3 separate regions of the Homo sapiens genome follow, and all the other regions are linked to region 2. The links come from fine-mapping of genetic effects on gene expression. A gene starts in region 2. Each other region holds a variant in brackets. All regions are shown on one strand. Distances are between the middles of the regions. Region 1 has its middle 17 kb from the start of ADAMTS6. Region 2 holds the start of RGS7BP (regulator of G protein signaling 7 binding protein). Region 3 overlaps RGS7BP (regulator of G protein signaling 7 binding protein).

What was found. PIP is the estimated chance that this variant, and not a neighbour inherited with it, causes the effect.
Region 1: its variant is fine-mapped to the expression of RGS7BP in vagina (GTEx, PIP above 0.99).
Region 3: its variant is fine-mapped to the expression of RGS7BP in unexposed skin (GTEx, PIP above 0.99). The same link has a PIP of 0.9 or more in minor salivary gland and sun-exposed skin.

Annotation. Positions count from the first base shown.
Region 1 is chr5:65,493,552-65,504,411 of GRCh38, forward strand. It overlaps a transcript of CENPK not described here. Among named protein-coding and RNA genes, the nearest start is that of ADAMTS6, 17 kb to the left of the region's middle. The variant C/T (reference allele first, on the strand shown) is at 5,254.
Region 2 is chr5:64,500,742-64,511,601 of GRCh38, forward strand. RGS7BP (regulator of G protein signaling 7 binding protein) reads left to right here and starts at 5,274. Exons shown (of 6, transcript NM_001029875.3): 1 at 5,274-6,048; 2 at 6,970-7,136. The coding sequence starts at 5,884.
Region 3 is chr5:64,528,320-64,539,179 of GRCh38, forward strand. The region is part of intron 2 of RGS7BP (regulator of G protein signaling 7 binding protein); the gene reads left to right. Among named protein-coding and RNA genes, the nearest start is that of RGS7BP, 28 kb to the left of the region's middle. The variant GGA/G (reference allele first, on the strand shown) is at 5,934.

The DNA of each region.
Region 1 (10,860 bases), 990 kb after region 2:
AAGGCAAGCTAATTAGAAAAAAAAACTTAATTCCTCATCTTATGTCATTTGCCAAAAATCCTTCTAAATATACATAAAATGAGCAAACAGATGAAAATTAATTATTGATATGAGGGTTAGAACCTGGGATCCAATCTCAAAATTAGTCATATTCCTGAAAAATGGATTCAGAACAACTGTACAAAAACAGACAAATACATACCAGAAAAAAACCTTCCTGAATTTAAGAATGACTTAAATTAGAAGATTAAAAGTTTCATTCTTTTCCTGGTAAAATCAATGTAAAGAAACCAAAACCTAGACATATCCTGGTAAAATGTTTAAATGTTTAAAAGAAAAAAAAAGCTAAAAAATTGTTTGTTGAAAAAAAAAGAGAGAGACATGAGACCATCATTCAAGAGTAAAAAGTAGACTTTTCATAAAACAAAAAGTCATACGCTTTTTACCACAGAACAGAAAGACATTCTATGATGTGTAAAGGCTTAACATCCTTCCTTCCTTCATTCATTCATTTATTATTTTATGCAGGCAATATTTATTGAATACTGACTATAAGATATGTATTTGAAAGTAATTATTGAAGGCATATATCAGCAGTCTAAGTGATATAAAAAATAACAACTCAAAAATGGGAGAAATTGACATATAAAAGGACCAGCAATAAGAAAAAAAATCAATTTAACAGAGTTAAGATTAAATCACAGTTACAAAAATAATTACAAAAGGCTGGGTGCAGTGGCTCACGCCTGTAATCCCAGCACTTTGGAAGGCTGAGGTGGGTGAATCACTTGAGGCCAGGAATTCGAGACCAGCCTGGCCAACATGGTGAAACTCCATCTCTACTAAAATTGTAAAATTAGCTTGGCATGGTGGCAGACGTCTGTAATCCTAGCTACCTCAGGAGGCTGAGGCAGGAGAATCACTTGAACTTGGGAGGTGGAGGTTACAATGAGCCAAGATCATGCCACTGGCACTCCAGCCTGGGAGACAGAGTGAGACTTTGTCTCAAAAAAAAAAAAAAAACACAAACACACACACACACACACACACACAAAAACAATAATTACAAAAGTATATGCAAAATAAAATTGGAAGGTTAAAAATTAAAGCTTGGGCAATGATTTCTTAGGGAAATACTGCCACCCAAACCAGGGGTGACAATATTAATTTCAAATAAAGTAGAGTCAAAATAAAAACTACTACAAAGGACCAGGAGAATCATAGTCCTTTACAATGATCAACAATCCCGAACTGTTATGCACTAAATAACACAGCATCAAAATACTTAAAATAGAAACTCTTACAAACTCCAAGGAGAAATTGATAGACATGCAACCATAGTAAGCTTCTTGATAAATCAGGTACACTTTTAAAATAATGTGATAAATTTCAGGATTAAATAACTGCATTACAAATGAAGCCATTAAAAAATCTAGGGTAGCCTGGTTCAGTAGTGTGTCACTGTAGTCCTAACTTCTTGGGAGGCCAAGGCAGGAGGATCGCTTGTGGCCAGGAGTTTGAGGCTGTAGTGTGCTATGATCATGCCTGTGAATAGCCACTGCACTCCCAGCCTAAGCAACATAATGAGGCCCTGTCTGTAAAAACATGGGGGTGGGGGGACAGAAGAAAATATAGGTGAAGAATTAACTATCTGGGAATAGGTAGACCTAAAACAATGGAATAGACAACAAAGGGAAAGAATGACAGATCCACCTATATTGTTTGAATATTAGTAAATAAAAAGAATAAACAAAATTAAAAGGTTAACGGCATACTGGAAAAAACTACAACAAATAGGATAGACAAAAACTAAATATATAAAGTTTCCTTATAAAAAAATATCAAAAGCTCTAGCTCCATGCTAGTGCTGTCCAGTTGAACTTTCCACTATGATGGAAACGTTCTGAATCTGCACTGTCCAATATGGTAGCCACTACTCACAAGAGCACTTGAAATGTAGCTAGTGCCAATGTTGAAATGATAATATTTGGGGTGTATGTAGTTAAATAAATTTTATTAAGATTTTTTATTACTAAAATAATTTTATCATTAAAATTTATTTCACCTGTTTCTTTTTACTTGTTTAATGAGGCCACAAGAAAATTTATTATAAAATTACATACACAGTTTGCATTAGGTGTCTATTCAGCACTGTTCTAGAATAACGATCAAGGAAACAAAAAATTCACAAAAGAAGAAATACAAACAGCCAGTAATCTATGAAAAAAAGTTCCATCTCACTTATAATCCAATAAATATAAATTAAAACAAGATTTTTATAATCAAATAGACAAAATTTTAAAAAATACTCATTGTTGGCAAGGGTTCCATTAAATGGGCACTCTCATACACTGCTGGTGGTGGTATAAATTGCTTCAACCTTTCTGGAAAGGCATTTGGCAATATTAATCAAGAGCCTTAGTGGCCAGGCAAGGCGGCTCATGCCTGTAATTCCAGCACTCTGGGAGGCCAAGGTGAGTGGATTGCTTGAGCCCAGAAGTTTTAGACCAGTCTGGGCAACATGGCAAAACCCCGTCTCTACAAAAAACACAAAAAATTAACCAGGCATGGTGGGGCACACCTGTAGTCCCAGCTACTTAGGAGGTTAAGGTGGGAGGATCACTTGAGCCAGGGAGGTTGAGGTTGCAGTGAGCCATGATTATACCACTGCATTCCAGCCTGGGCTATAGAGACCTTGTCTCAAACAAAACAAAACAAAACAAAACACTTATACTCTTTGACCTAGTGTCTCTATTTCTAGGAATTTACATAAAGACATTGATCACGGTGCTATTTCTAAGAGTGAAAGACTGGGAACAACCTCAATAGCCAATAATAGAAAAATTGTTAAAATAAATGATGGTACTCCTACTTTGTTAATAATCCAGTAGCCTTAAAAATGTTTTTTCTAATATTACCTAGTTATGAGAAAAATACAACAAAGAGTAAAAGAAGCAGAGCTCATTATATAGTATAATCATAAAGAACATTATAAGCATATACATAAAATGCATACGTAAACACTTTACTTCATAAAATTAGGATCATAATTTCATATTTTCTAGCACATGTCATACAGTTAGGATCAAGGTTAAGTAATAAAAAAAGGTTACAAGTGGTTATCTCTGGGTGGTGGGGTTTTTAATTTTCATCTTTATACTTTGCTGTTTGTTTTTTTTCCAAAGTATTTATGAGTATATTTTTACTATAAAAATAAAAAGGCTGGGTGCGATGGCTCACGTCTGTAATCCCAGCACTTTGGGACGCCGAGGTAGGTAGATCACAAGGTCAGGAGTTCAAGACCAGCCTGGCCAAGATGGTGAAACCCCATCTCTACTAAAAAAAATACAAAAAAATTAGCCAGGCGTGGTGGCGGGTGCCTGTAATCCCAGGTACTCGGGAGGCTGAGGCAGAGAATTGATTGAACCCATGAGGCGGAGCATTGCAGTGAGCTAAGATCACGCCACTGCACTCCAGCCTGGGCGACAAGAGTGAGACTCCGTCTCCAAAAAATAAAAATAAAATAAAAATAGTGGCCAAGTGCAGTGGCTGACGCCTGTAATTCCAGCACTTTGGGAGGCTGAGGCGGGCGGACTACCTGAGGTCAGGAGTTCAAGACCAGCCTGGCAAACATGGTGAAACCCCATTTCTACTAAAAATACAAAAATTAGCTGGGCATGGTGGCACATGCTTGTAATCCCAGCTACTCGGGTGGCTAAGGCAGGAGAATCGCTTGAACCCGGGAGATGGAGGTTGCAGTGAGCCAAGATTGCCCCCACTGCACTCCAGCCTAAGCGACAAAGTGGGACTCCCTTTCAAAAAAAAAAGAAAAAAATTAGTTCCTCACGGGCTGTTAGAAGCAGTCACCCTTAGTGATAAGAAACTACAATATGGACAATCACAACATGGCAGTTGACCTCATCAAAGTAAGCAAAGGAGAAAGAGCAACAGAATGACAGCAAGATAGGAGTCACAGTCTTTTGTAACCTAGTCTCAGAAGTGATGTCCCTTTGTTCTATTGATTCATTACAAACAAGTCATAAGTTCCCCGGTCCACACCTAATGGGAAGGGGATAACACAAAGCCAGGGATACCAGGAGGTGAAAATTATTGAACAGGGTTTTAGAAGTCTGTCTACTGTAAATATAAATGAACGAAATGTTCCAATAAAAAGGCAGGACAGTGGCTCACGCCTGTAATTCCAGCACTTTTTGAGGGTGAGGTGGGAGGCTCACTTAAGCCCAGGAGTTCAAGGCTGCAATGAGCTATGATTGTGCCATTGCACTGCAGCCTGGGCAACTGAGCAAGACCCTATTTCAAACAAACAAATAAATAAATAAATAAAATATACACATATATATTCAAAAGTCTATTTAAGTTAGAATAAAAACAATATAGTGTGGAGTTTGTAACATCTGTCAAAATAAAAGATCTGACAATAACAAAAATGCCAAGAAGGAAGAAATTGAATTTCAGCATTATAAATTTCTTATACTGTATGTATAATTGGTATGAATTGTTTTTCTAGTATTTTCTGTTGGATTTTGCATCTACGTTCATAAGACTAGGCTACAATTTCCTTACATTATCATTTGCTACCCTAGCCTAGAAATAATTTACTTTTAAAATATCTTTAATAATTTCTGAAACATTTTTATATATTATATATCTCTCTAATGTTATGTAAATATATATCAATATACACATATAGATATATTCCCAACCTTCAAGGAATACATCTAGGGATTGAGGGCATATCTCTTTATATATGTTTTTTGTACGTGATTGCTTTATTTATTACATTTACATAACACTTATGTAACTTACCATAGTCTACTGGTATTGACATTTTATCAGTTTGAATGAAGTAAAATCCTACCTTCCTTTAAACCTCTTTACCTTTCCCCAGTTACAATCGTCTTAAATATTTCCTCTACATCACTGAGAATCAAATCATATATTTTGTTTCAATCATGGACACATAACTTAGAAAATTCAAGAAGAAAACTATTGTATTTGGTCATATATCTTCCTTCTCTTTCTTTTTTCTTTCTTTTCTTTTTTTCTTTCTTTTTCTTTTTTCTTTTTTTTTTTTTAGAGACAGGGTCTGATTCTGTCTCTTTTTTGAGACAGGGTCTCACTCCACCCAGGGTGGAGTGCAGTGGCATTGATCATGGCTCACAATAACCTCAAATTCCTGGGTCAGGCAATCTTGCTGCCTTAGGCTCCTTAGTAACTAGGACTACAGGCACA[C/T]GACACCACGCCTGGCTAATTTATTTTTTGTAGAGACAGAGTCTCGCCATGTTGCCCAGACTGGTCTTGAGAACAGGCTTCAACCTCCCTAAGTGTTGGGATTACGGGTGTGAGTCAACATACCCGGTCTTGTATTTGGTCACATTTTTGCTCTTTCCTGTTGTCCTTCTTTCCTAATATTCCAAGATTCCTTCTTTGATGATTTCCTTTATGTTTCAGGACTTTCTTTTTTTAAATAGAGAATGAGGCCTCCCTTTATTGCCCAGGGTTATCTTGAACTCCAGGCTTCAAGCTGTCCACCTGGCCTCAGCTTGGCAGGCCTCAGTCTCCCAAAGTGTTGGGATTACAGTCGTGAGCCACTGCACCCAGCCAGGAACTTTCTTTAGCCTTCTTTTAGGGTAGGTCTGCTAGCAACAAACTCTCTTAGTTTTCCTTCATCTAGTATGTATTTATTTCCCCCTCATTCCTAAGGGGTAATTTTACCAGATATATGATATCTGACAGGGCTGACAGTTCGTTGAGCAATTGAAAAACATTAAGCCACTTCCTTCTGGCCTCCTCGGTGCTTGATGAAAATCTACTGTCCTCCCAATTGTTTTTCCCCATAGGTAAGGTATCCTTTCTCTCTCAATGCTTTTAAGACTTTTTGCCTTCTCTTTTCAGTTTACTTACAATGTGTCTTGGTGTAGACTTCTTTAGGTTTATCCTTTCCTGAGCTGGGGTTCTCTCAGCTTCTTGAATCTGTAGGTTTATGCTTTTTACCAAATTTGGGAAATATTCAGCCACTATTTTAAAACCCACCCACTTTCTCCTCTTTCTGGGACTTTGATGACAAAAATATTAGATCTTTTTTTTTTTTTTAATTTTTTTTTTTTTATTATACTCTAAGTTTTAGGGTACATGTGCACATTGTGCAGGTTAGTTACATATGTATACATGTGCCATGCTGGTGCGCTGCACCCACTAACGTGTCATCTAGCATTAGGTATATCTCCCAATGCTATCCCTCCCCCCTCCCCCGACCCCACCACAGTCCCCAGAGTGTGATATTCCCCTTCCTGTGTCCATGTGATCTCATTGTTCAATTCCCACCTATGAGTGAGAATATGCGGTGTTTGGTTTTTTGTTCTTGCGATAGTTTACTGAGAATGGTGGTTTCCAGTTTCATCCATGTCCCTACAAAGGACATGAACTCATCATTTTTTATGGCTGCATAGTATTCCATGGTGTATATGTGCCACATTTTCTTAATCCAGTCTATCATTGTTGGACATTTGGGTTGGTTCCAAGTCTTTGCTATTGTGAATAGTGCCGCAATAAACATACATGTGCATGTGTCTTTATAGCAGCATGATTTATAGTCCTTTGGGTATATACCCAGTAATGGGATGGCTGGGTCAAATGGTATTTCTAGTTCTAGATCCCTGAGGAATCGCCACACTGACTTCCACAATGGTTGAACTAGTTTACAGTCCCACCAACAGTGTAAAAGTGTTCCTATTTCTCCACATCCTCTCCAGCCCCTGTTGTTTCCTGACTTTTTAATGATTGCCATTCTAACTGGTGTGAGATGATATCTCATAGTGGTTTTGATTTGCATTTCTCTGATGGCCAGTGATGATGAGCATTTCTTCATGTGTTTTTTGGCTGCATAAATGTCTTCTTTTGAGAAGTGTCTGTTCATGTCCTTCGCCCACTTTTTGATGGGGTTGTTTGTTTTTTTCTTGTAAATTTGTTTGAGTTCATTGTAGATTCTGGATATAGTGTCACAGGTCTTTGAGGCTCTGTTCATTTGATTTCATCATATTTTGTCTCTGTTAATCAGATTAAGGAATATCTATTGTTCTTTGTTTTTTCGGTTTTTTGTTTGTTTGTTTGAGATGGAATCCCACTCTGTCTCCAGGCTAGAGAGCAGTGGCGCAATCTTGGCTCGCTGCAACTTCTGCCTCCTGGGTTCAAGCAATTCTCCTGCCTCAGCCTCCCCAGTAGCTGGGACTACAGGTACACACCACCATGCCCAGCTAATTTTTGTATTTTTTGTATTTTCAGTAGAGACGGGGTTACACCATGTTGGCCAGGATGTTCTCGATCTCTTGACCTCATGATCCACCCACCTCAGCCTCCCAAAGTGCTGGGATTACAGGCGTGAACCATGGTGCCTGGCCATATCTATTGTTCTAGCTGCAACTTTGCTGATTCTTTCCTCTTGTCCTCTTCATGTTGCTATTGAGCCCATCACTGAATCTTGAATCTGGTTATTGTGCTTCTCATTTTAAACTTTTCAATATGATTCTTCTTTATATCTTCTATTTCTTTGCTGAGACTTTCTATTTTCATTTGTTTCAGGCATGTTTGCAATTGCTAAGTTTGTTTTTTTTTTTTTTTTTTTTTTTGAGACAGAGTCTCGCTCTGTCATCCAAGCTGGAGTGCAATGATGCAATCTCGCTCACTGCCACATCCACCTCCCGTGTTCCAGTGATTCTCCTACCTCTGCCTCCCTAGTAGCTGGGATTACAGGCACCCACCACCACGCCCAGCTAGTTTTTGTATTTTTAATAGAGATGGGGTTTCACCATGTTGGCCAGGCTGGTCCCGAACTCCTGACCTCATATGATCCACCTACCTTGGCCTCCCAAGATGCTGGGATTATAGGCAGGAGCCACTGCTCCTGGCCCTCTGTTTTATCTTGATGTTGCTGTATGTTGTCTTTTTTCATTAAAGTTCAGATTTTCCTAGTTCTTCGGGCATGTATTGTACCCTGGACATTTTGGTTATTATAACACTCTAGATCTTACTCAAATCTTGTTTTAGCAGGCCACCTTTGACACAATTCTGGTGGAGGGGAAATGGGGCACAGTCTCATCACTACCAGGTAGTGGTGAAAGTCCACGTTCTCTGCTCAGGCTTTTTGACACCCAGGGTAGGGAAACAGAAGTGCTTTGTGACATCTGGGCAGCTGTGGAAATTCAGCCTCTTCAAAGGCCTCCATTGACATCAGTCTGGCTAGGAAAGGAAGGAGCACCTTGTTACTGATTGCCAGGTGGCCTCCACTGATTCTATAGTCAAGAGTAGGAAGCCTCCTTACCTCTGGATGGTGGTGAAAGTTCTGACATGGCTTCCTCTAATGAACAGGGTTGCCTCTTTACTACTGGGTGGGTATGTAAGTTCAGAACCACCACATGGCCTTCTTACTGCTGGCAGGGAGGAAAGTCCTGACTCCCAACTCAGTCTTCTCTGATCACCCCAGGGGCAGGACACCATGTTATAGCTCAACAAGGGTGGAAGCTGAGGTCCACTACTTTTGGCCTTTTTGGACAGGGGTGGTGGTAGGGTGGTATTTTTTCCATGGTGTTTAGCTGCAGTAGGGTGGTTATAGTTGAAAAGTTTTCTGTCTTACTGTGTTGCCTCTTTCCTCATCCTTTTGATAGAGCAAAGTTTTGGGAAACTTTTATCTTCCATTGGTGTTTTCAAGGTTATGATCTTCTCTAGCATCCAGTCTGGTACGTATAAGGCAAAAAGAAAACTGCTGTGTCCCTCTTTGTGTCCCAAAGTCCCTAGGCAGTCTGCTGCCTTCGCTCCACTTTTCAGATATTTCCTAACATGTATATTACATATAATGTGCAAAGTTTTAAGCTACAATTAACAGGAGGAATAGAGAGGAGTGTGTCTACTCCATCTTAGTCTGAAACTAGAAGTCCTCTCTTTCCTTTAAAACATTTTCAAAATATTTATTCTCTAATATGAAGAGATATTTAAAACATTTTCAGGATATTTATTCTCTAACATGAAGAGTCTTTTTTTGTTTGTTTGGTTTGTTTTTTTAAGAAATAGGGTCTCACTCTGTCACCCAGGCTAGAGGCTAGAGTGCAGTGGTGAGATCACTGCAGCCTCAAACTATTGGGCTCTAACAATCCTCCCACATCACTGGGATTACAGGCGTCACCTACTGTGCCTGGGTTCTTAAGTCTTCTAACCAATATAAATTTTTAAATTTTATTTATTTATTTATTTATTATTTTTTGAGACAGTCTTGCTCTGTCACCCAGGCTGGAGTGCAGTGGTGCAAGCTCGGCTCACGGCAACCTCCACCTCCCAGGTTCAAGTGATTCTCCTGATTCAGCCTCCCGAGTAGCTGGAACTACAGGCACCATGCCTGGCTAATTTTTGTATTTTTAGTAGAGACAGGGTTTCACCACATTGGCCAGGTTGGTCTCAAACTCCTGACCTCAATTGATCCATCTGTCTCAGCCTCCCAAAGTGCTGGGATTACAGGTGTGAGCCACCGTGCCTGCCCACCAATGTAATATTTTTTTTTTTTTTTTTTGAGACAGAGTCTCACTCTGTCTCCTAGGCTGGATGCAGTGTCTCGATCTCAGCTCACTGCAAAATCTGCCTCCTGGGTTTAAGCGATTCTGCCTCAGCCTCCCGAGTAGCTGGGATTACAGGCACACACCACCATGCCCAGCTAATTTTTGTATTTTTAGTAGAGACGGGGTTTTGCCATGTTGGCCAGGCAAGTCTCGAAATCCTGACCTCAAGTGATCCGCCTGCCTCGGCCTCCCAGAGTGCTGTTCTGCAGGCGTGAGCCATTATGTCCGGCCTATAATTTTAAATTAGGATGAATGTCTTCTAATTGTTGATTTTAGGAGAGCTCTTTATGTATTTGAGATGTGAATTCTTTGTTGGATAGTTACCATACTTTCTCCCACTCTGTGGGTTGCCTTCTAACTCTGTCTAAAGATGTCTTCTTTTTCTACAGACAGAAATTTATAATTTAAATTGGCACATTTAAAATTTTTAAAAATATTTAGAACTTTTTCTATTATCTTTAAGATACTTTTTGTCTACTTGCTAAACTTTTTTTTTTTTTTGAGACAGAGTCTCACTCTGTCGCCCAGGCTGGAGTGCAGTGGCTTGATCTCAGCTCACTGTAACCTCTGCCTCCTGGGTTCAAGCAATTCTCTGCCTCAGCCTCCAGAGTAGCTGGGACTACAAGCACGTGCCACCACGCCTGGCTAATTTTTGTATTTTTTAGTAGAGATGGGGTTTCACCATATTGGTCAGACTGGTCTAGAACTCCTGACCTCGTGATCCGCCCACCTTGGCCTCCCAAAGTGCTGGGATTACAGGCGTGAGTCACCGTGCCCGGCCTGCTAAAAAAATTTTTTTTTTTAACAGAAAAGCCAAAAACATTGGCTTCTTTGTAATATGCAACTGTCCTGAAGCAAACACAACCCTTTGCTTGCGATCATTATACTAAGTATGAATATCATGTTCCACAGTCAAAGAACAACCAGAAAACACTTTGACCCAAATATAAGCTAAAAATAAGGGAAATCTTGTCTTATATATTTTTTTAAAAAAAACCTGGCCAGGCGCAGTGGCTCATGCCTGTAATCTCAGCACTTTGGGAGGCCAAGGTGGGGTAGATTACCTGAGGTGAGGAGTTCGAGACCAGCCTGGCTAACATGGTGAAACCCCATCTCTACTAAAAATACAAAATTAGCCGGACTTGGTGGCACATGCCTGTAATCCCAGATACTCCGGAGGCCTAGGTGGGAGAATCGCTTGAAACTGGGAGATGGGAGGTTGCAGTGGGCCAAGATC
Region 2 (10,860 bases):
GTATTAGATGGATTGATTTGATGTATCCTATACTTTTTCACAATTATTCTTTACATATTATATTAATCAAGACTCTTTTGGTTGCAAGTGGTAGTAATCCAAATAAAACTGACTTAATTTGAAAGGAAATTTTTTGGTCCACCTAAATGAAATTGCAGGTATAGTTTGACTTAAGGCAGAGATGGATCTACAAACTCAAATAATATAATTAAGAATCAATATCTCTCCATCTCTCCATTCTGATCCTCTGGGTTAGATCTCAGGCAGTCTGTTGACTATGAATGGCAAAAATGGCCACCAGAAATTCCAGCTTTCATCTTACCAGTTTACCAACCCAATGGAAAGAAAAAAAACTAAATATTAGGTTGAAATATATAAAATTGCTATTTATGTAGGTCAAAATGGTTGAATAATGGCAATTTCATATCTTTCAACCTAATAGTTCCAGAAAAAGTCCCAATGCTAAAGTTCTTTGGTCCAACTTAGATTTCATAACCATTATTAAACCAGTCATTGTGGCCACTGAGATACAGTATTTGTATTGGTCAGTCCTGAATCATATGCCCATGCACAGAGCCATGTGGGCAAAAAGTGAGAGAGGACTGATTTCTCATAGGAAATTTAAGGTGCTATCATCAGAAAAGGGAGAATAAAAATTGAGCAAGCAAAACACTAGATGCCCATTATGCACACAAGAAACACTCCAAGGTTGAAATTTACCGTGAATTTCATGAAGCCTAAACTTCAGGGAACCTCACTTGCATAAGCTCCTTCTAAGACAATGTATCTCATCTTGTATTTAAATTTTTGTGTTCTTTTTCTTTAAGAGGGGCTCCCAAATTGTATAAGCTTCAAGACCAACAAAACCTGGATCTGTCCCTAACAAGAATACCCAAAAATATTTGTGAAATTAATAAATAAATGTTCCCAACATATTGCACCCTCTTATGCTTTTAGCAGAAAGAAACCATCTGTTAGATAGTTTATTCACTAAGTTCTTCAGAATAACTTTATCTCTTATCTTTTGACACTAACAAAAAAATAACTTGATCATGCCCTTCAGATCTCCCTAGCTTCTGGAATTCAGAATCTTAATGTATTTTTCTCTGCCTCTATCAGAGACCCACTCATGTAAGGGCCCCCCCTTTTTTTCACTTCTCTGAACTTTATTCCCAGATGAAACCTGCCTCCTACTATCACCTCTCATGAGAGGCCAATCCATTATGAAGTGTTCATTTCTGGGTCCCACTACGGTTCCCTACAGAACCAATTTGAAGAAACTCAGCAATTGCTCATATTCATTCTAAACTGATGTTCTCTGATGTTTCTTAAAATTTCAAATCAAAATGAATTCTCAAAACTATCACAGAGAGAACACAAAATGTAAGGTATATCTTATATTGGAGTGAATCTAGGATGTGACTCTTGTCAAAGCCATATACCTATAGGTGACCAATGATCAGGCATGTGCCAAAATCGGGTCTGGGTAATCAAAATATGTGCCTGTTGTTGAGATTTCCAACTACACTTTACCCTTCTACTTGGCAGTCAGACAGCCTCAGGAATGTAAATTCATGCAGTTTTGAATGTGGGGGAAGGTTAGGAAACTAAGCCTGCCTGCTGCTATTCTGATTACAGCATTTGTCGCTGGCTGGGAGAGACAGCTCTGAGATTGATGCTATTTTTCTCCCTTCTCAGGAAAATGGCTTGGGCTGTGTATCAGGGAAGGCCAAGGGGCACCTACGAGTGAAATTTCCGCTTAATCCCCCAGCAGGTTCCCAAGTCAGTAGTCTTTCAGACGTGGCATTGCATTTGACCTATTCATTCCATCCCCCACCCCTGCCCCCCAGCTCCTGCAAGAAATATGGCATAGAAATAGGGCAGTGCAATTATATTGCCTTTTTTTCTTTTAATTTGTTGAAATTGTCTCTAGGCAGAAGAAGGGAGGTGGGGGTTAGAAACCAGATGGTTGTAACTGGAGTAGAAACCTACTACTGAGTAGGTTTAAGACGCTCAAATCTGGTAGAAGTGGCTATTTCCTCACAGGAAAAGGGGATGAATCAACAGAGCCATGGAAAAAGATTTCCAGCAGACTGATCTCCAGTGTCCTATCCTCTTCAACCCATGTGCACACACATGTAAAAGGTAGCCCCTTTTCCCTTAGTTCTCCAAAGCACCACCAACAATGGGTTATAGCAGACTTTTCCTGAAAGTTGGGTGGAGAGTGCAGGGGTAAGCTAGTGACAGTGAAAGAGGTTTATAACACAGGACTTAAACCATCTACAAATGAATATTATCGATCCTTCTTTAAAGCCCCTCAGTCTCTCTGTTATCTTCCTCTTCATCATCCCAAGCATCCTCACCCCTCACAAAACCCCAGGCACCTGATGTGTTTTTCTGCTTCTCTCTTTACACGCGTTAAGTAGAAAGAAAATTGGGGCTGGGCACAGAGCCTCATGCCTGCAATCCCAGCACTTTGGGAGGCTGAGGCAGGCAGATCACCTGAGGTCAGGAGTTTGAGACCAGCCTGGCCAACATTGTGAAACCTTGTCTCTACTAAAAATACAAAAGTTAGCCGGGTGTGGTGGCACGTGCCTGTGGTCCACTCAGCTCAGGTTGTAGGAAGGGGTTCCTACAACCTCCTTCTCAGATTTGGTAATTCACTAGAATGACACAGCACTCAGGAAAGAGCTTTTCTTACTATTACCAGTCTATTCTAAAGAATACAACTCAGGAGCGGCCAACTCAGGCATGTCTGTGGAACTACTCAGAAGTCTGCACTACAGCCTGGGAAACAGAGTGAGACTCCGTAGAATGAACGAATGAACAAAAGAATGAAAGAAAGAGAGAGAGAAGGAAGAGAGAGAGGAAGGAAGGAAGGAAAAAAGGAAGGAAGGAAGGAAGGAAGGAAGGAAGGAAGGAGGGAAGGAAGGAAGGAAAAAAAGGAGGGAGGGAGGAAGGGAGGGGAGGTAATTGAGATTGCAGGAAAGAGAAAGGGTCAGGGAGCTGACTAAGCACTAACCTGTTATCTTCTTATATTTGGGGAGATTCAACCAGCAGAAGAGCCCTTTCTCTCAGTCTCTGGGACATCTAAACACCTGGAGGATAGCAGCACACCAAGGTCTGGGCCTGAGAGCTGATGCCTCCTTTCTCTAGTCTTTGATAGGGAAAACTCACTCTCAAGCTTGTGTGAAGTTCTGGTCAGGCGCAGTGGCTCACACCTGTAATCCCAGCACTTTGGCAGGTGAAGGTGTGTGGATTACTTGAGCTCAGGAGTTCAAGACCAGCCTGGGCAACATGGCAAAACTCTGTCTTTACAAAATATTAGGTGGCATGTGCCTGTAGTCTCAACTACTTGGGAGGCTGAAGTGGGAGGATCACCTGAGCCCAGGAAGTTGAGGCTGAAGTGAGCTCTCATGGTGTCACTAAATTCCAATCTGGGTGACGGAGCAAGACCCTGACTCAGAAAAAAAAAAAATGTAGCCAAATATCCACTCAGTGATCCATCTGTTAGGTTTTTTTTCCTTCCCACCCAAATACATGATGTCTTTTCCAATAGCACTTCTCCAACTCTCTAACACCAATTAGGTGGCCTACAACTCATTTCTGGCACTAACTACCCAGAGTTAACGTCAGATTTACAGGTTTAAGGGCTCAGTCCCACAAGACTGCCCTCATCTCAGAGGCCAGTCACAAGTATGGGATCCACAGGTTACCAACTCTTCTCTCCATCTTGGCGACAAATTCAGGGGTTCCTATAACCACCTTCTCAGATTTGGTAATTCACTAGAATGACTCACAGCACTCAGGAAAGAGCTTTACTTACTATTAGCAGTCTATTCTAAAGGATACAACTGAGGAGCAGCCAACTGGAAGAGAAACATAGGGCAAGGTATGGGAAAAGGACATGGAACTTCCATGCTCTTTCCTGGTGTACCACCCTTCCAGCACCTAGATGTCTTCCACAACCCAGAAGCTCCCCACACTCTATTGTTGTTTAGGAGTTTTACAGAGGTTTCTTTATGTAGGCATGATTGATTAAATAATTGGCCATTGGTGAGGAACGCAGTCACTAGCTCCTCTCCTATCCCCTGAGATTGGGGGATGAGGCTGAAAGTTGCAAGCAACTAATCAAGGCTTGGTCTTTCTGGTGACAAGATGGCTTATCATAATAACTCAGGCAATTTCTAAGGGTTTTAGGAGTTCTGCCCTAGGGACTGGGGACAAAGACCAAATAACTCTCTTATTATAGTACCCCATTATATTTACTTGTCTTGTAGAAAAGGTTGTAAAGCCACCCTCCTTAGGATATTAACCTTCCTGGCTATTTCAGGCTTTCTCTTTCTATGTACTCTCCATATCCCTTTAACAGACTGACCAGGAACCTCTAATCTGTTCTTATTAGGATTACTAATACATAACTAGTTTTCCTATGGGAGACCCCTTTATCTCCCTCTCCAAACAAATCATTCAGGAGAACAAGCATCCTTAGAGCCTTAGAGTTGAATGCCACAACACTCTCTCTTCCTCCCAGAAGAACCTTAGGAAGATGTCAGTGGGAAGGGTGAACTTAAATGGCTGAGGGCCTCACCCCCACTCCTTTCACACAAGAATCATCCCCGATTTTCTGGGCCACCTCTGTTGGCCTCTGGGTTACTGATATCCCATAAGTGAGAAGAAGGTCATTTTGAGTGTCCAGGGAGATCTCTTGGCTCTTATTTGTTCAAGTCTCCGGAAGGGAACTCTAGGAGCTGAGTCCTGAGACCCTGCAATGCAAGACCAAGAGCTTTACTACTTGAAATGGGATGGGGATGAGGCCCAATCTGAGTGAATGCCTCTGTGCATTCTGCCTCACTGGCTCTCCTCTTTCCCCCTCCATGAACAAGGACAAAATAAAAACAAAACAACTCAGGGAAACAAAGCTCTCCTTTTAGGTTATCAAGAGGTCTTCCATTTGGAGCAAAACCTCACTCCCTCCTGTGGCCCCTGTCTCAGTCTCAGTTGGTGAGGGCCTCAAGCCCACACTGGCTTATTTGAAATCCATGTTTAGGTCCCAGCATGTGGCATGTGCTCCACTCTGATGACACTTTTCGTTTCTAATAATAGAGCAGATGAAGTAATATTGCAATTGATGTTCCCGGGGATTTGATTGGATAAGTGCATAAACTGTGGAGGGGGAAGGGGGTTGCATGGACAGATCACATTAGTATTCCCGTCCTATCAATGTGCGGGCCCGCGAACAACGTCAGCCGGACCGATTCTCTGCGTCTGCCAGTCCCGCCACAGATTCATCTGGGATCTTCAAACAGACAAGCCCTTAGAGACGAGGGATCAAGGCAGCCGATTAGAGCCAATTGCTTGCTTTGGGGACGGCCAGTCCTTCCAGGCCTGGCGACAGTGGAGGGAGGGGAAAGACGAACCGAGTGCCGCTGCGGGAAGACACTGAAGCAAGAGCGACACCCCTTTCCGCCCCCCACCTTGCAGCGCAGGCTTTGAAAGCTGCTCCCCCACCTGAATGGAAACTCGGAACCGCCGGGCGGCGCGTTCCTTCTCGCCCAGCCTTGCAATCCATGCCGAGAGGAAGGCAGTGCGAGCCCGCGCCAGCGCCCAGCTCCCGGGACAGGGTCGGCAATGCTGCTGAGCAGAACTTGATCGCGCTCCTTCCTCGCTGCTAGTGGAAGCGATGCTGCACGGCACAGCTAGCGCTTCCCCGGCTCTCCTTCAAGCTGAAGGTTACCGACCCGCGCAGCCAGCCCCAGCACTGTGAGCTGCGCGCCTCAGGTCCGGGCTCCGGCTGCTTGGCGGCGGCGCCCAGGGCAACAACCGGGCCGCCCGCGCCGGGGCGCACTGCACCAGCGGCTTCGGCTTGGTGGATGTGTATGCATGAGTTCTGCACCGAATGGGCGCAAAAAGCGCCCCAGCCGGTCCACCCGCTCCTCGATCTTCCAGATCAGCAAGCCCCCGCTGCAGAGCGGAGATTGGGAGCGCAGGGGCAGCGGCTCCGAGAGCGCCCACAAAACCCAACGAGCCCTGGACGACTGCAAGATGGTGGGTGAAAACTGCGCCTCTTTTTTTTTTTTTTTAATTGAGAGGGGGTGGGGGGAGTCATGTATGTTAATCATTTGCCTGAGTGCCAGCCACTCCCCCACCCTCAGCTCCTCAATGCCGATCACGTGGCACATGCACTATTTTTAAATCTGCAGTCCCCCAAATTCAGGGTGACACCCTGGTCGTAATAACCCTGCAGAAAGAAGTGTGACAGCAAGGGTCTTGGGGATCAGCGGCTGTAGGTTGTGCCTGTACCCCCTCGAAGAATGGTGGATGCGAAAGACACAGTGAACTGGCTCGCTCACGGAGGAGGGAGGGATGAGGAGGTGGGGATGCTGCTTTCTGGGGACAGAGTAGCAAACAAACCCAAATACAGCGCACGGGGCGCTGCGGAGGGGTCGAAGGTTCCAGCGCAGAGGCTGTAGCTGGTCTTCCCGTCAGGCCGTCAGGCCGAGAGGTTCAGTGGCCCAGCAAAAGGTGAATGGTTTGCCTATTACACCCTACCTGTCGCCTCCCCCGCCCCTCCCGCCGTGCAACTTAAAAGCCATGTCCTAGCAGTAGGAGAGGGGACCGTCTATGTAGGAGTCCCCAGCATCATTCTCTGTTGGCCTGGGAGTGGCATGGTAGCGCTCCAAATATGCTCTCTTGCTCTTCAGAAACTGAGTCTGAAAGGGTGAGGGGAAGTAGGTCTGGAAATAGAGCTTCCATGGCCAGGCTTGCCTATGGAAATAAATACTTGCCTTGGACAAAGAGACTTGCCATTTTGGTGCCTTCTGCTTTAAACAATTCCTAGGTTCCTTAGCTGGAGATCTGGGGAGCTGACTCAGGGGTCAGTGAAAGCCCCTGTTTATGTACTCCGAAACAGGAAACTTTCTGATGAGAAATGTTTGGTAAAAAAAAAAAAACTCACTTCTTTTCCAGCTTGTCCAAGAGTTCAACACACAAGTGGCCCTGTACCGAGAGCTGGTCATTTCTATTGGGGATGTCTCGGTCAGCTGCCCCTCACTCCGGGCGGAAATGCACAAGACAAGAACCAAAGGCTGTGAAATGGCCCGTCAGGCACACCAAAAATTGGCTGCCATCTCAGGGTAGGAGACTCGGCATTATTTGGTAATCCATATACATGATGCATGGATGCTGACAGAATTTTATGGTAGTCAAGTCCTCAGACATGATCTCCACATATTTGAGATTTTAACCTTAAGATCGAAATTCTCTAGAGAGCTATACACAAACTATAGGCCAAACCATAATTTGAAGGCTGTGTCATTCTTGCATATATGTATATATATTTAGAAGATTTGGATCAAATGATTTTTTAAAAACTTAATTTTCAATACTCTGGCCACATTCTGGAATTTGGAGCATAAGATTTGGGGTGGATGGCTGGACATCAAACTGAAGTTAAATCATCTTGCCTCAAAATTATTTTGTCATCTGCTGCTGAACAAAAGGCCTGTGCTGTAGAGAAAAACTCTTTCCCAAATCCCAGATTTACTAAACTATTTATACCATGAGATAAATTCCTATGATACCGCCTAAAATAAAATCCCTAAAATAAGGTCTTAGATATAAATTACTCTCTTCACTGTGGTGATAGGAAGGGGTAAGTTTTAGCATAAGAACAGTTTTTAAAGATTGGGGAAATTCACATATCTCAATAAACCTAACATGATTTTGTCCCCCAAATTTTTATTTATTTTCATCAGATTTATCGTTTTTCTAGCCTGTATTAGGAGATAATTCAGTATGTGAAAACTTCTCTCTTGGGACCCTACCTACACTTTCTTTCATCTCTTAATATTGGGGAAAAAGTTAGCCATGGATTTTGTTAACAGTTCCTATTTTCAAGATAAGTACTTAGAGCAAGGAAACACAGGAATCCTTATACAAATACATCAATACATTAATTTAAGTGCTTTGTTCAGTCTGGATATAGTATTTACCTGTTTATCTATGTGAGTATAGCTTTATCGCAGCAGAAGTTCAAATTAGACTCACCTGATAATGTTACAAGCTGATCACTTGTAGGAAGTATATCTAATTTACCTATTTGAAAGAATCACTGTTTGCCATCTTTAATTCCAATAATATGTATAGTGATTATAAAGTTTATAAAGATTGGAAAGCCATATACTGCCTCTGTTAATAATTACTTTACATTTGACCACAGGCATTTTATATCATGAAAAATGATATGCTGTACTCATCTCCTTGAAGAGAGGGATAAACAAAATATGTTATAACCATATTTTATTTAGTAAAAATATTGAGAAGCCTTATCCTTTTCTGTTTTAACTCTTATACTATTCTTAACAAGAAGTAAATCCGGGAAATGGAGGGGAATTAAGTGGTTCAGGAGTTTGGTGAAGAAATACAGCTGTGATAAATCTCAGACAAGGAGAGAGACAGAAAAAAAAAATCAGAAATGTGAAGGAGCACTGGTAAATTTAGAAGTACAGATAAACAGTAATTCAAAAGGAAAAGCAGATTTAGGACAGGAAATTTTCTCTCAAGGCTAAGGAGTAGCAACTCTGTAAACTTTGTGTCCTAGATTATAGGATGGGATTGCATTTAGGATCCCTCTGAGTTGGAACTCAAAATGAGAACATGTTCTAATCAGAGATGGTGGGCTGGAGGAATGAACAAGGAGTTCGATTCAGTCTATTTTGCGACACACACAAAATTCAGGGTCTTCTGAAGGTTCAGGAAAGAAAAGGTCTGAAACTATTGACTAAAAGTTGAGTTTGGAGGATTTCAGGTGGATTTTTTTTTTCTTTGAGAGGTATTATAGCTATGTTACCCCGGCTGGTCTTAAACTTCTGCACTCAAGTAATCCTCCCGCCTCAGGCTCCAGAGTAGCTGGGACTACAAGAATGCACCATGGTACCTGGCTTGAGGTGGATTTTATTTACTCTGGTGTTTTTAGCTCTTTGCTACTTGTTTGCATGTTATCTGTGTGTTGATGTTAATGGGGGCAGTTTTATAAGAATTAGTGGGAAAATAAGATGTTCTTAGAGCCTTGCCAAAGGAAAACCAACTCCATAAAATATTCTAGGATAGAACTTGACACATTTCCCCCCTTACAATAATAATTAAATGCAATTTAACATTCGTTATAAAAAATGACAGCAATATAATTGAAGGAAATCCCTTTAGTTCCTCACCATCTGGGCTCCGTTAATGAAGGATGTGATTCCCTTTGGCGGAATTCCGTTTCTGATATCATTTGTTATGTGGGTTCTTGTTTCAAGCTTGATGTGAAGGCTGGTAGGGAGGCTGTAGGAGTCACTTTAAAGTTTGAAGCAGGAGTGAGAAAAGCAAAGGTTTTTGGCGAAATTTAGAGAGAAGAACTGGATTTCTTGCGCGCCCACTATTTGTCATCACAACCCAGCTATTTCCTTTCAGCTGAGGGAGGGATTATTATTCTTATTCTACAAATAGGTCTAGAGAGATTGAGGAACTTGCCCAAAGTCACACAGCTAAGAAGTGACACAGCTTTGATTCAGCCCCATGTTTGCATGCTTCTGATTTTCATGCTTTTTCCTCTATATAATGCTGCCATTCAAAAAGGTGTTACGTATAAAGGATACATGATAAAATATAAACTAACCTTAAAAAGAGTATGCCAACTGAAAGAAGCCAGCCACAAAACATCACATGTCATATGATTCCATTCATGTGAAATGCCCAGGAAAAGCAAATCTATAGAGACAGAAAGTAGATTAGTGGTTACCTAGGACTGGAGGCGAGAGCAGGTAGAGACTACAGATGAGCTCGAGAAATCTTTTTGGGATGATGGAAATGTTCCAGAATTGGACTATGGTGATGGTTATACAATACTGTATATTTACTAAAAGTCATTGAATTGTAACTAATAATGAGCTAATTTTATGGCATATAAAGTATACCTCAATAATTGTTTTTTAGAAAGGTATTGTCATCATCACCGTGATTAACACTTGGTTTTTTGTCAACTTTATTATTTTCTACATATGTAGCTTTTAATGAAGGGGTATGAGCTATAGGGTGGAGGAAAAGTAATACTTGGCTCCCCATGCATTCCTCAAGACACCTGCCTCATGGCTATTGCTTAAGCACCAATTCTTTGCTCTGTGTAGGAATACAAGTGTGGGAAAGGCAGGACTTGAAGGAGTAAGTGAATTTATTCATTTTCTACCAATACAGACTCCCACTTCCTGGTCTACCAGCTGGCTTTGGGGCCACAGGAGGTAGACAGGATTGAAGGTGGACAGGGTAAAAAGAAGATGAGGCAAGATAGAGAGGAAGAGGAAAAACAAGGAGTTAGCATTAAACAAGCCACTAATGCTACATACCTTTCATCCCTGACCAACTGAAACCCTCAAGGAATGGTGGAGCTCACGGGAGAAGAAAACTCAGACTATGTTTTTTCTAACTGGCCCTGTTTAAGAAGGCCATCTCCACAAATACAATCAACACGCTTTCTCAAATTGTGTTTGGATCAGCAGAGTTCAGGCACAGCCTTTTCTTTCAAAGGCATCAGATATCTGCATTCTGGACAGACCCAGCCAGGTGAATACAAAGTATCCTCTGACTGTCTTGATTTACTAAAGTTATGTCTTTACAACTCTGACCCTGTCCCAGACATTAAAGCTAAGAGGGGCCTTAAAGATCACTTGCAAGAATGGGCCTCAAACTTTTTTAGCAGCAAATCCTCCCTTCAATCTAAATGTAGAAAGCCATATTTATAAAGACAGTCGCAGTGGCATAACTCTGCACTGCTTGGGGTGTGTGTGTATGTGTCCACGTGCCTATCAGGAGTAGGTCAGG
Region 3 (10,860 bases), 28 kb after region 2:
CATCCTGTGATATTTTTTGCCTGGTGTATTGGTGGTTATGAAGATAAAATAAGAGACATCAGTGAAAAAGATTAGGTCACATTTAAGCACACAATTGTTCAATAAATTTTCATTCACTCACACATGCCGTAACAGCTACTTAACAAACATGTGACTTCAGAGAATTATCCCCTGTGAGCCTGAGTTTCCACCCCTGAAAAAGGAAGGATAGGCCGGGTGCAGTGGCTCAGGCCTGTAATCCCAGCACTTTGGGAGGCCGAGGTGGGCAGATCACCTGAGGTCAGGTGTTCGAGACCAGCCTGGCCAACATGGTGAAACCCCGTCTTTACTAAAATACAAAAATTAGCTGGGTGTGGTGATGCGAGCCTGTAATCCCAGCTACTCAGGAGGCTGCGGCAGGAGAATCGCTTGAACCCGGGAGGCAGAAGTTGCAGTGAGCCAAGATTGCACCATTGCACTCCAGCCTGGGCGACAGAGCAAGACTCCATCTCAAAAAAAAAAAAAAAAAAAAAAAAAAAGTGGGAGGGAGGATAATAATGGCACCAATTTCACTGGGTTGCCATGAGAATTAAATGATGTGATATAGGTAAGGAACTAAGCAAAACATAGAACACATAAGAAGTATTCAATACAGGCCAGCTATTATTATTATTACAACGTATTCCAATATTCCTTAACCAAAAATACTTGCGGCATTGATAACACTTTTATTGTAATTCAGAAAAAGAGAATTATAAAAACTTATAGATTTTAGCTTTAACAATCTGGGATAGAATAAAAATAGTTTGGGAGGTTATATTTTGATTAGAAAAATGTACTTTTTTGCCATTTTAATACCAAAAAAAGAGAATTATTTCAAGTGTTTAAAAATAGTCCAAGGTCTGACACCAAAAATAGAATATTTCATTTCAGAAAGAATGCCTTAGAGAAATGACGAGCTGCTGATAAAGGAAATGACTTTGGGTTTAAAGCAAGTATTTTTCTGTTATAAAAGTGATTAGGCCTTTAGAAATGTTTTCAAAATGATATAGAATATTCACCTCATATAATGACTGTATCTTGGCTTTTTGTCAGGCTCAAGATCCAAGAGAACCAGGACTGGGTACAGGAATGGGAGAAAAGAAACTCTAAGATATTGTTGGTTTCAGATCACAGGGTTTACTGAAATAAAAAGGTTATGAGAACAATACAAACCAGTGGTTACCAAGCTTGTGATGCCCATTGGAATCGCCTGGGGAGCCTAAAAAAATGCCAATGTCTGGGTCCTACCCTCAGAGATTCTGATTTTCTTGGTCTGGGGCATGGCCTGGGTTCCAGAATTTTTAAAATACCTCCAGGTGTTTCTGATATGCAGACAAGTTTGAGAACCACTGGCATAGACAAGGGATCTATTTGAACAAGTATAGCCTCCAAGAAGGGCTGTCTCCCTTTCTCTTTCACCAAGACAAGTGACCAGATTCTGGATCCTTGCTGTTCTAGCTTCATGTCATCTCCCATTCTCTGTATCTCTGCTTCAGTTTTCACAACCTTCCTTTAGTTGTGTTCCTGCATCACATGGCCAGAAAACTTCCATTTATGGCTACTTAAGAACCTCCACGGGCTGGACTTTTATACCAATTCTATACTTCTATACTTCAGGACTTCTATACCATTTCCATACCAGGTGACATCAATAAACCAGGAAAATATGTTTCAACCACATTAATTTTTAGTAGAAGCCAAAGTGTTCAGATGGTATCTTTGAAGGATCACCAGGTCAGGAGCTGTGGTCTGAACTGCTCTGTGTGCATGCACCCGTCATTAGGAGAGTGAGATAGTCGGGTCAAATGTAAACTTGGCTTTCAAATTGAGAAAAAAAACTTATCTACTCATCTTTACAACATACTTTAACTGTATTGCTCACATTGGAAGTAATGACATAGGGGCCTTTTAAAAACTAGAATTTGAAGCCAGAAGTATTTCATCTCCCAGGTTTATCTGAAAAAGAAAGTAGGAAATATGTAATGAATGTAGATTGCATACAAAATGAGATTATATAGAAGAGATATTATTGGCCTAGAATGACAAAAATAGCTTCAAGATTTAAAAGTGCTTTCGTGATAAAAATAATCTCACATTGTCCTTGGAACATACCTGTGTGATATTTTTATTCTTGTGTAATAGACGAGGAAATGAAGGCTCACAAAGATTAAGTGTCTTGCTCAAGGTCACAAAGGCAATAAATGCTAGTGTCAGTGCTTGAACTTATATCCCCCTGATTCAAAGGCCACTATACTTTCCACTGTGCCATGACTGGAAGTACAAATCATGTCTAAATGTGGTTCAAGTGTATTAGGTTATTTATAATTTTTGCTTTTCCCTTCATTTTACTTATAACTGCCAAGAATAGACTTAGCTCTGTTATTAATCAGTAATTCAGGAGATGTGTCAGTAGGGTTTTTTCTTTTTTTTTTGCAAGCAAGAGCAGGTGGCTCCAGATATATTTATTAAGTAGAATAATTTATTGGAATCATTATTCCAAATAATGCAAAGGGAACCATTATAATCACATGGGGAAACAAGAGAAAAGGGGTTGGAAAATGGACACAAACCAAGGAGAATGCACAGTCTACATAGCTGAGACAGGCTGGCCAGGATGTTGCCCTAGCCAACACCACTGATGGATGCTGCTGCCCTAAATGAATCCTAATTATCCCTTCCTCTTGGGTCAAACACTCCAGCTTCAAAGCTCTGGTACGAAAACCCAGTTGGTCATGTGCAGCTTCCTGGTTGCAGGGAGTAGGAGAGGAAATACTCTCCCCATGGAAAGACACTTCTTCTATAGTGGACATTGTACACCCTCAATACCATCAATAATGGGGAGTCCCTCAATAGGAAGAAGGATTGAATGTAAGACAACTAAAAAAATGGCTCCTGCAGAACAGTGTTTCAAAACTATACGTCCTTCTATTTTTCTGCAGTATTAGAAAATCTTGTAAGAGAGGCTTCCAAGGAAATTACAAGCTATTTTAAAAAGAATACTTTATTCAATCTTAATTTTAAAAATCTGTGGTAAATAACAGAGTCATTGGAGACTCAATCAATCTGCACACTGAGAAAAAAAAATACAAAACTTGCACCTGGGGAGTTTGTTGTTCGACATCTTCCAAATTAGGAGGTCTGTGGGATTACACTCATTCATTTTCTAATCTAGCTGCAGTCCGTGAAGAAGTCACCCCATGCAATAAGGTCACAGCCATTCTAGGGCACAGTATGGAAATATGCTCCTTATTCGTTTGTTCATTCATTCATTCACTCATTCATTGGTTCAGCCTACATTTATTATGCACTTTTCTGTGTCCTAGGCACTGAGGTTTCCAGCATCTGCTTCTGGGAAAATGAAGATAAAAATTCACAGATCCTGAAAAAAATCTTGTTTGTGCACATGTATGGTAGGCTTGTTCTCACATGATTTTGAGCGTATGTTGCTATGCAAGAATTAGAGAGAATTTTTCAAACAACATAGGGTATTTAGGTAATTTAGAGAACTCCTTTATTAATAACATTGGAGTAGCATATTTACTAATATGTTTAAACAATGTTAAAATTTTTCATCATCTTGGAAATTCCCCTCCTGCTCTATCCTTTAGTTTCCTACCTGCTAGTTTTTTTTTCCCCCTCTCTCTTTTGCTATGTGCATACAAGCACAAGTAAAGAATAAAAATTGCTCATTGCTTATCGGGAAGTGCTATTTTTAGACAGAATCTTAGGTCTTGAAAGATTTCGTTTCATAAGTCTTTTTGGCATGCTTACTGTCTTTCAGAAAATGAAAAAGAAGGTGCTCACCAAAGACAGATTTATACTTAAAGTTGGACTAATTTGGATGATAAAAACTGAACTGGAGCCGTATATGGGAAGAGCTAAACAATGACTTGATGTTATCATTGCTTAAATCTTTTTCTGAATAGTGCAAGCACCACCACAATTTGTTGTAATATCCTTTTTTTTTTTTTCCTGGAGCTGTACCTGGGTTGTATCAGCCCAGTGTCTGTTTTCATAAACCCAAACAGAAGAGCCCCGTAGAACAATGAGGCTTAATCTGCAAAGTGTAGAGAGGCAGAATAGGCTTTAGAAAGAGCATTTATTCTTAGGAGAAATTGTGTAAATACCGTTTCAAGTGTCAAAATAATAACCTTTTGTTTCTGGAAGTTGAATGTAGGAGCACCTATGTTTGCTTTTTTAGGTATTTGGAAAGCCATTTCCTTTTAAAAACAATAAGTAAAAAGAATGATGATCTAGTTTTCTACTTCCTGGTGAAAGTAAAAGCATCAGCTGCTAAAAACCTCTATAAATAATGAAACAAAAGTTTCTCTAAATTCTTCAGTTCCTGGAAACTACCCTTACATTTAGTACCCAAGTAAAATGACTTGAGCCCCCACCTCTCATATTATTTGTGGAGTCTGTTGCCCCCACACACCCCCAACCCCCTTTTCAGGCCATTCTTCTCTAGTGTATTTGGGTAGCGGAGGGCCTGTCCCACATTCACTGCTGAGTCAGCCCATGCTGCAGCCTGAATCCCTAGCATAATCACACTACCCCTTCAGTATTGTTTGCAGCTCTGTGCCTCTGGCCCACTTACCTCACAGCCTCATCAATATACACATACTGATTGGAATCTGGACTGCCACTCTTGTGCCTTCATTTCCGAGGGCATTGCTCACACCAGGCTGTTGTTACCAGTCCATCTCCCTTTCTGCCAAACAGCTTCTGGATGCCACCCCTGAGAACTCTTCCCTCTTGCTATGGCCCAGGTGATGACCATACCAGCTTCTCAGTTGGACCACCTAGGTAGTCCCTTCATTTCTTCCCTCTTGAGTGGACCTTCATCTTCCACCTGCATTCAGAAATTCTCTTCTCTTTGCTCCTGAAACATCTAGAGCTGAGAGAGACTGATGTGGTTGGTGATACTCAAACTCAGCCAGAATGAGTTAGGCCCTGTCCCTGTCTATACTAATGAATAAGAAGCTTTGAAGACTCTAATGCTAGATCTTCAGGTAAATGGCTCTATTTCCCAGACTACATGAGCTTTGGAAAGCATATTTCATGAGTTCCATAAATATCTCCCAGAACACGAGTTCTTAAGTTTTTCTGCATACTAAAATCACCTGTAAATCTTTAAAACTCCTAATGCTCAGGCCACGACCCACATCAATTGGGACCACCTGGGGGGTGGGATCGAAGCCCTGCCCCTGAGGTGATCCCAATGGACAAAAAAAGTTATGAACCCCTGCCCTAGAAAGTGGCAGGATGAGGAATTAAACATAAAGATCATCACCTCATATTTTTCTTCCATAAATAAAGTATGTACAAGAGACCCAGATTTTAACAACAATTTCACATACATTCAAAGCTTTATGCCTCTTTGTATTTTGATACAGTGAAGTAAAACTCCGTTAGAAGTTTAAACGTTATGCCAACCTTCTCCCTCCCCACCTCATGTCTATTTCTAAGCTACAACTATTTATTCTACAATTATTCCTTCAACAAAGATGTATTGAGTACCTACTATGTACCAGGCACTGGGGATACCCCAGGAAATAAAGCAGACATGACTTACACTTGTGAAATTTATTTCTGCCAGAGGGGACATATGATAAATAAGAAAGCAAATAAATAAACAAGATTATTACAAAAGTGGGATGTGTATAAGGACAGTAATAGAAAAAGGATAATATGAGAGCAAGTGTGCTGCATCTGTGGGTGGAGGAAAAGAGCAGCTGATTCAGGTACCCAGGAAAGTCCTTTTTGGGAAGATGACATTTGGGGTGAGATCTGAATGGTAAAGGAGCCAGCCATGCGAAGATCTGGGGCAGAGCATGCCAGGCAGAAGGAGGAGTGAATGCAAAGACCCTGAGGCAGGAACGAACTTGGCTAGTTCCAGAGCCTGACAGACT[GGA/G]GTGTGGTGAGAGGCAGGAAAGCAGGACAAGACAAGGTCAGGAAGGAGTTAGCAACCAGCCTGTCAGGGCCTCGCTAGGTCACAAGAAAGAGTGGATTTGATTTAAAATGCAGTGAAAAGCCACTGGAGGATGAGATTTATGTTTTTAAGATGTGTAAGAAAAGACTGTACAGGGCAATAGAGGAATTCGTCCCTTGGGTAATAGTTGCTTGTTTTAGAGGTAAGCAACTGTTTAGAGGTAAGACCAGCAGAATTTGCAGAAGGGTTGCAGCTTGGAGGGGCAGTGATGAGGATGAGGGAAAGGGGAGAATCAGAAACAAGTCGGTCTGAGTAACTGATTTGATGGTGGTGCTGTGCCATGAAACAGGGAGGTCTAGGTGAGGTACCCTTTGGCAGATGAGAGAGCAAAAAATCAAAAGCTGTGTTTGAACATAATAACTTGGTGATTCCTTTCAGCATCCATTAATACCCATTAAAAGATAATGTCCATTAGGACAAATCTGGAGCTCAAAAGAAAGGTCAGGGCTATAAATTTAAATATGGAAGGCACTGGCATAGAGGTGGTATTTAAAACTTTCGGACTGGATGAGTTCATGTAGGGAGATGATGTAGATAGAAAACAAAGGAGAGCTAGGGGCTGGGCACTGAGGTGCTCTCTTAAAACCTAGGAAGAAAAGGAAGATCCAGCAAAGGCGACTGAGTAGGGGCCAGGGATTTAGGGTGATAGGGCCCTGGGTGTCAAGAGAAAAACTGTCTCAGATGGAAGGTGAGACAGTTTTGCCAATGCTGCTGAAATGTCCAGTAAGATAAGGACAGAGGGACCAGTGAATTTTGTGAGAGAGGTTCTTGGTGACCTTGACATGAGCAGCCAGAGGAGCACTGGGAACAGAAGTCTGGATTGGAGGGCTGAAGAGAAAGTGAGATGTGAGGACGTGGAGGCAGTGGCTATTGGCCCATCTACCAAGAGCTTCTGCTCTTCATGGAAACATGTACTTATTCCCTATCCTGATCTAGACCTCTGAATATACAGATCTATTAAAGTATGCACATTTTTCTTCTTAAAGAACAAGTGTATACACTAGATGCCTGATCTCAGCTTAAATATACTCAGTGCATCCCGTGTTTGACCTAATGGCTACAAGAAACTTGAAACATGAATGAATGCTAAGGAGAGGATTAGCTCTGCTCTCACCCCATGCAGGAATAACTTCTGGAAAGATGCTCCCTCCCAGCCCCACCTCTTCAGCTAACCATCATAAATAATCAAAGAGAAAAATATATGATCCCCTTAAAATGCCTATAAAGAAAGAAAGAAAGGTTGATTATTAAATGACAGGAAAGGTTATCCAACATAGAGAGCTTCAATTTTAAGTAGCACAAAGTAACACTTTCTCACATTCCTATTCAACTTAAAACCTGAATAAATTCAAATAGCTTTTAGCTGAACTAGATTTTCACTCTCCTTCCATAGCAGACAGGAAGACATACATCCTCCTTTATGGAGATTAAATGGTCCTGCCAATATCTTTTAGATTATGACCTCAAGAAGCAACGGAATATTTGGCCAGTTATTGTCAAAGGAGCAGCTTAATATCAGCTTTGAAAAAGGTAAAAATCTACTTTATTGGAAGAAAGTCTTGGGAATCAAAATGGGTAACACAGAAAGTCTTGAAAAGACTTAGTTGTCTGGGGTGTCTATGTAGACAAGCCCTTGGGGGTACAATTGTGATGGAAATAAATTACTCTACAGGTGCCAATTTAAGTCTGTATTTTGCACAGAAGGATAATTTGTCACTCTCAAAGTCAAAATACAGTAGTCTTGCCCTGTGTAGCAGGACTTTCAGAACTGAAGTCCAGAAGTCTCTTTGGGTAGGTAATATCCTCATTAAACATCAAGGAACAGACAAAAAGTAGCTCATGATATTGGGGCAGGGCTGAGTTTGAAGACAGAAGCCCATAGCCGTACCAGTAAAGGGAAGATATTTCTGATTTCTGTAGACAAACTTCAACTGGGAGCAAGAGCTTGTGAGTACAGTGAGGAAGTGGAGAGCATATGGGAAATTCTGAGAGGGACTATGTGAGAAATCCAATGAGCATCAGATATCTCAGGTCAGGGAGCATAAAGAAAAAGAAATTATGTTAACTAGGGTGATTATGTTCCTTATGGTGTTTATTGTCGCACGCGTTCACAATAAAAAATCCAAATACCTTTAGTAACAGTAATAGTTGTTCTTATAGGATGAAAATCTTCATCCTATTTACATGTATCCCTGCAATTCAGTGTGCAAATCACAGACATTACTTTCAAAACAAAATGTATCAATAACATAGAATACCTACATTTCAGGTGCTAAAGGTATTCTTTTAACTGACCTTCACTTACGTGAGTCACTGGATTAAGGGAAACTTTCCATTCCCTCTGTGAAACCTATTGACTAATGCCTTGTTTAGCAAGCTACTTCTAGTACCAGATATGGACTTCTGACCCACCCATTCAGTTGTATGCTTACCAAGAGTCAGCTATGCTGGTTTCCAAACCTGTTTTTGCCACATTTTGATTAGGTGATTTGATGAAATAGGAGGGAAAAAAGAGCTGTTAACATAAAAATTAATTTGATGAGCTAGTAAGAAAAAAAAATGCTATCAAATTTGGTGTGGCCAAGGTAACTATAAAAGACTGTGACAAATAATCATAAAATTCCAGAATGATTCTGCACTAGGTGTGCATTGCAAGTATCTTCAAGTTTCTTCTAGACTTTAAAGAAATTAAAACTGGAAATTGGAGATGATGTTTTATGTGTCGCTTCTCAGCCTTTTGGCTAAGATCAAGTGGAGATGATGTATAATGAGTATGGTTCTTGCCAGATGAAGAACTCCAACCAGTGGATTCATACTCAAAGAGAAGGTCTTAGTCCAGGGGTGTCCAATCTTTTGGCTTCCCTGGGCCATGTTGAAAGAATTCTCTTGGGCCACACACAAAATATTAACACTAATGATAGCTGATGAGCTAAAAATAAAAATCGCAAAAATAAATCTCATAATGTTTTAAGAAAGTTTACAAATTTGTGTTGGGCCACATTCAAAGCCTTCCTGGGTCACTTGTAGCCCTTGTCCGCGGGTTACAAGCTTGGTTTAGGCTATCACCAGAAGACTGGTAGGTCAATGTATAATTATGTGTCTCAATTTAAAATAAGTTTAAGATATATAGTTAGCGTTGAATTTTTAACCACCCAATTACCTGTCTTGGTAAACTGGGTAGGAGAGTTTTTACTGTACCTGCTAGGGATGTTCACTTTGGGCTCTCTAAGCTTTACCTCTCCCCAGAAACTTGGCTAAAATCATGGTATTCAAGAGAAAGAGCCTAGGAATGTGAGTTTCTCTAAGTTCTATTCCTGGATCAAGACAGAGCCCCAGAAAGCTACATCATGGACCATTTTGCTTTAGATTATGATAGAAATTCCTTCACAGAGACATGATTTTAGTGTTAGACTCTTGACTTTCATTGATGATCCAGGGAAGAGTCTGTCATATGAAGAATATCTCTGCCTGCTCTGCTATGCTGCTAAAAGCATTCCATTATGCTATTCAAAGCCTGATAAATGAAGATCCATATGACAAACTTCTCTTAGTGCTAAAAATCTGCAGGCAGCCACATGGGAACACTGGGAAGAGTGGAAAAGACAGGAAAGAAAGAGGAAAGAACTCATAACCCTAGACAGAACTAATGTTTCATCCAAGTAAATAGAAAGCTCTTTTTTTAACCTCTTCTTTAACTTGTTTTCTTATGGATTTATGAATTTTAAAGTTGATAAACCTAAGAAGTATGCATTATTTTACCTACTTAGTGGAAACCATATACATAGCTAATTTTAATTAATATTATTATCAAAGATATGAATGCTTTTATAAAACAATCTTTAACTTTTTTCTGTCTCCCTAATTTTAAAAATTGGCTTAACTTACACACAATAAAATTCATTTTTTGTTGTACATTTCTATGAGTTTTGACAAATGTGTAGAGTTGTATAACCACTACCAACATCAAGATACAGAAGAGTTCCATCACCCCCAAAACATTCTCTCATGTTGCCACTTCATAGTCAATCCCTTCCCCTTTTCATAGCCCCGGCAAACTCTGATCTGTATTTTGTTCCTACTATTTTGTCTTTGTTTTGCCTTTGTTTTGTCTTTGTCAAAATATCATCTAAGCTAAATCAGAAGCATGTAGCCATTTTTTTTCCTTTTCTTTTCTTTTTTTTTTTCCTTTTCTTTTCTTTTTTTTTTTCCTTTTCTTTTTTTTTTTTTTTTTTTTTTTTTTTTGAGACAGACTCCTGCTCTGTCACCCAGGCTGGAGTGCAGTGGCACGATCTCAGCTCACTGCAACTTCTGCCCCCTGGGTTCAAGAGATTCTCCTACCTCAGCCTCCTGCGTAGCCGGGATTACAGGCACCCGCACCATGCCCAGCTAATTTTTGCATTGTTAGCAGAGATGAGGTTTCGCCAGGTTGGCCAGGCTGGTCTTGAACTCCTGACCTCAAGTGATCCACCCACCTTTGTTGGCCTCCCAAAGTGCTGGAATTACAGGCAACATGTAGCCTTTGAGTCTAGCTTCTTCCACTAGCCTAATTCATTTGAGATTCCACTCGATTCTACTTGAGATTCATCCACATTGTTGAATGCACATTCTTTTTTATTTGTTCTGTAGCATTCTGTTGTGCAGCTGTGCCCCAGTTTGTTTATCTATTCACTCTCAGTTGTTTCCAGTTTTAATGACATCTTCAGTACTACATATTGTTAGCTTTTGTTTGCTTTGCCCATTTTAAAAGTGTAGAGAGATATCTTGTGTTTTTAATTTGCGTTCCCCTAATGACTCGAGATGTGAAGAATCTGCTTATGTGCTATTTAGCATTCATCACCTTCTTAGTG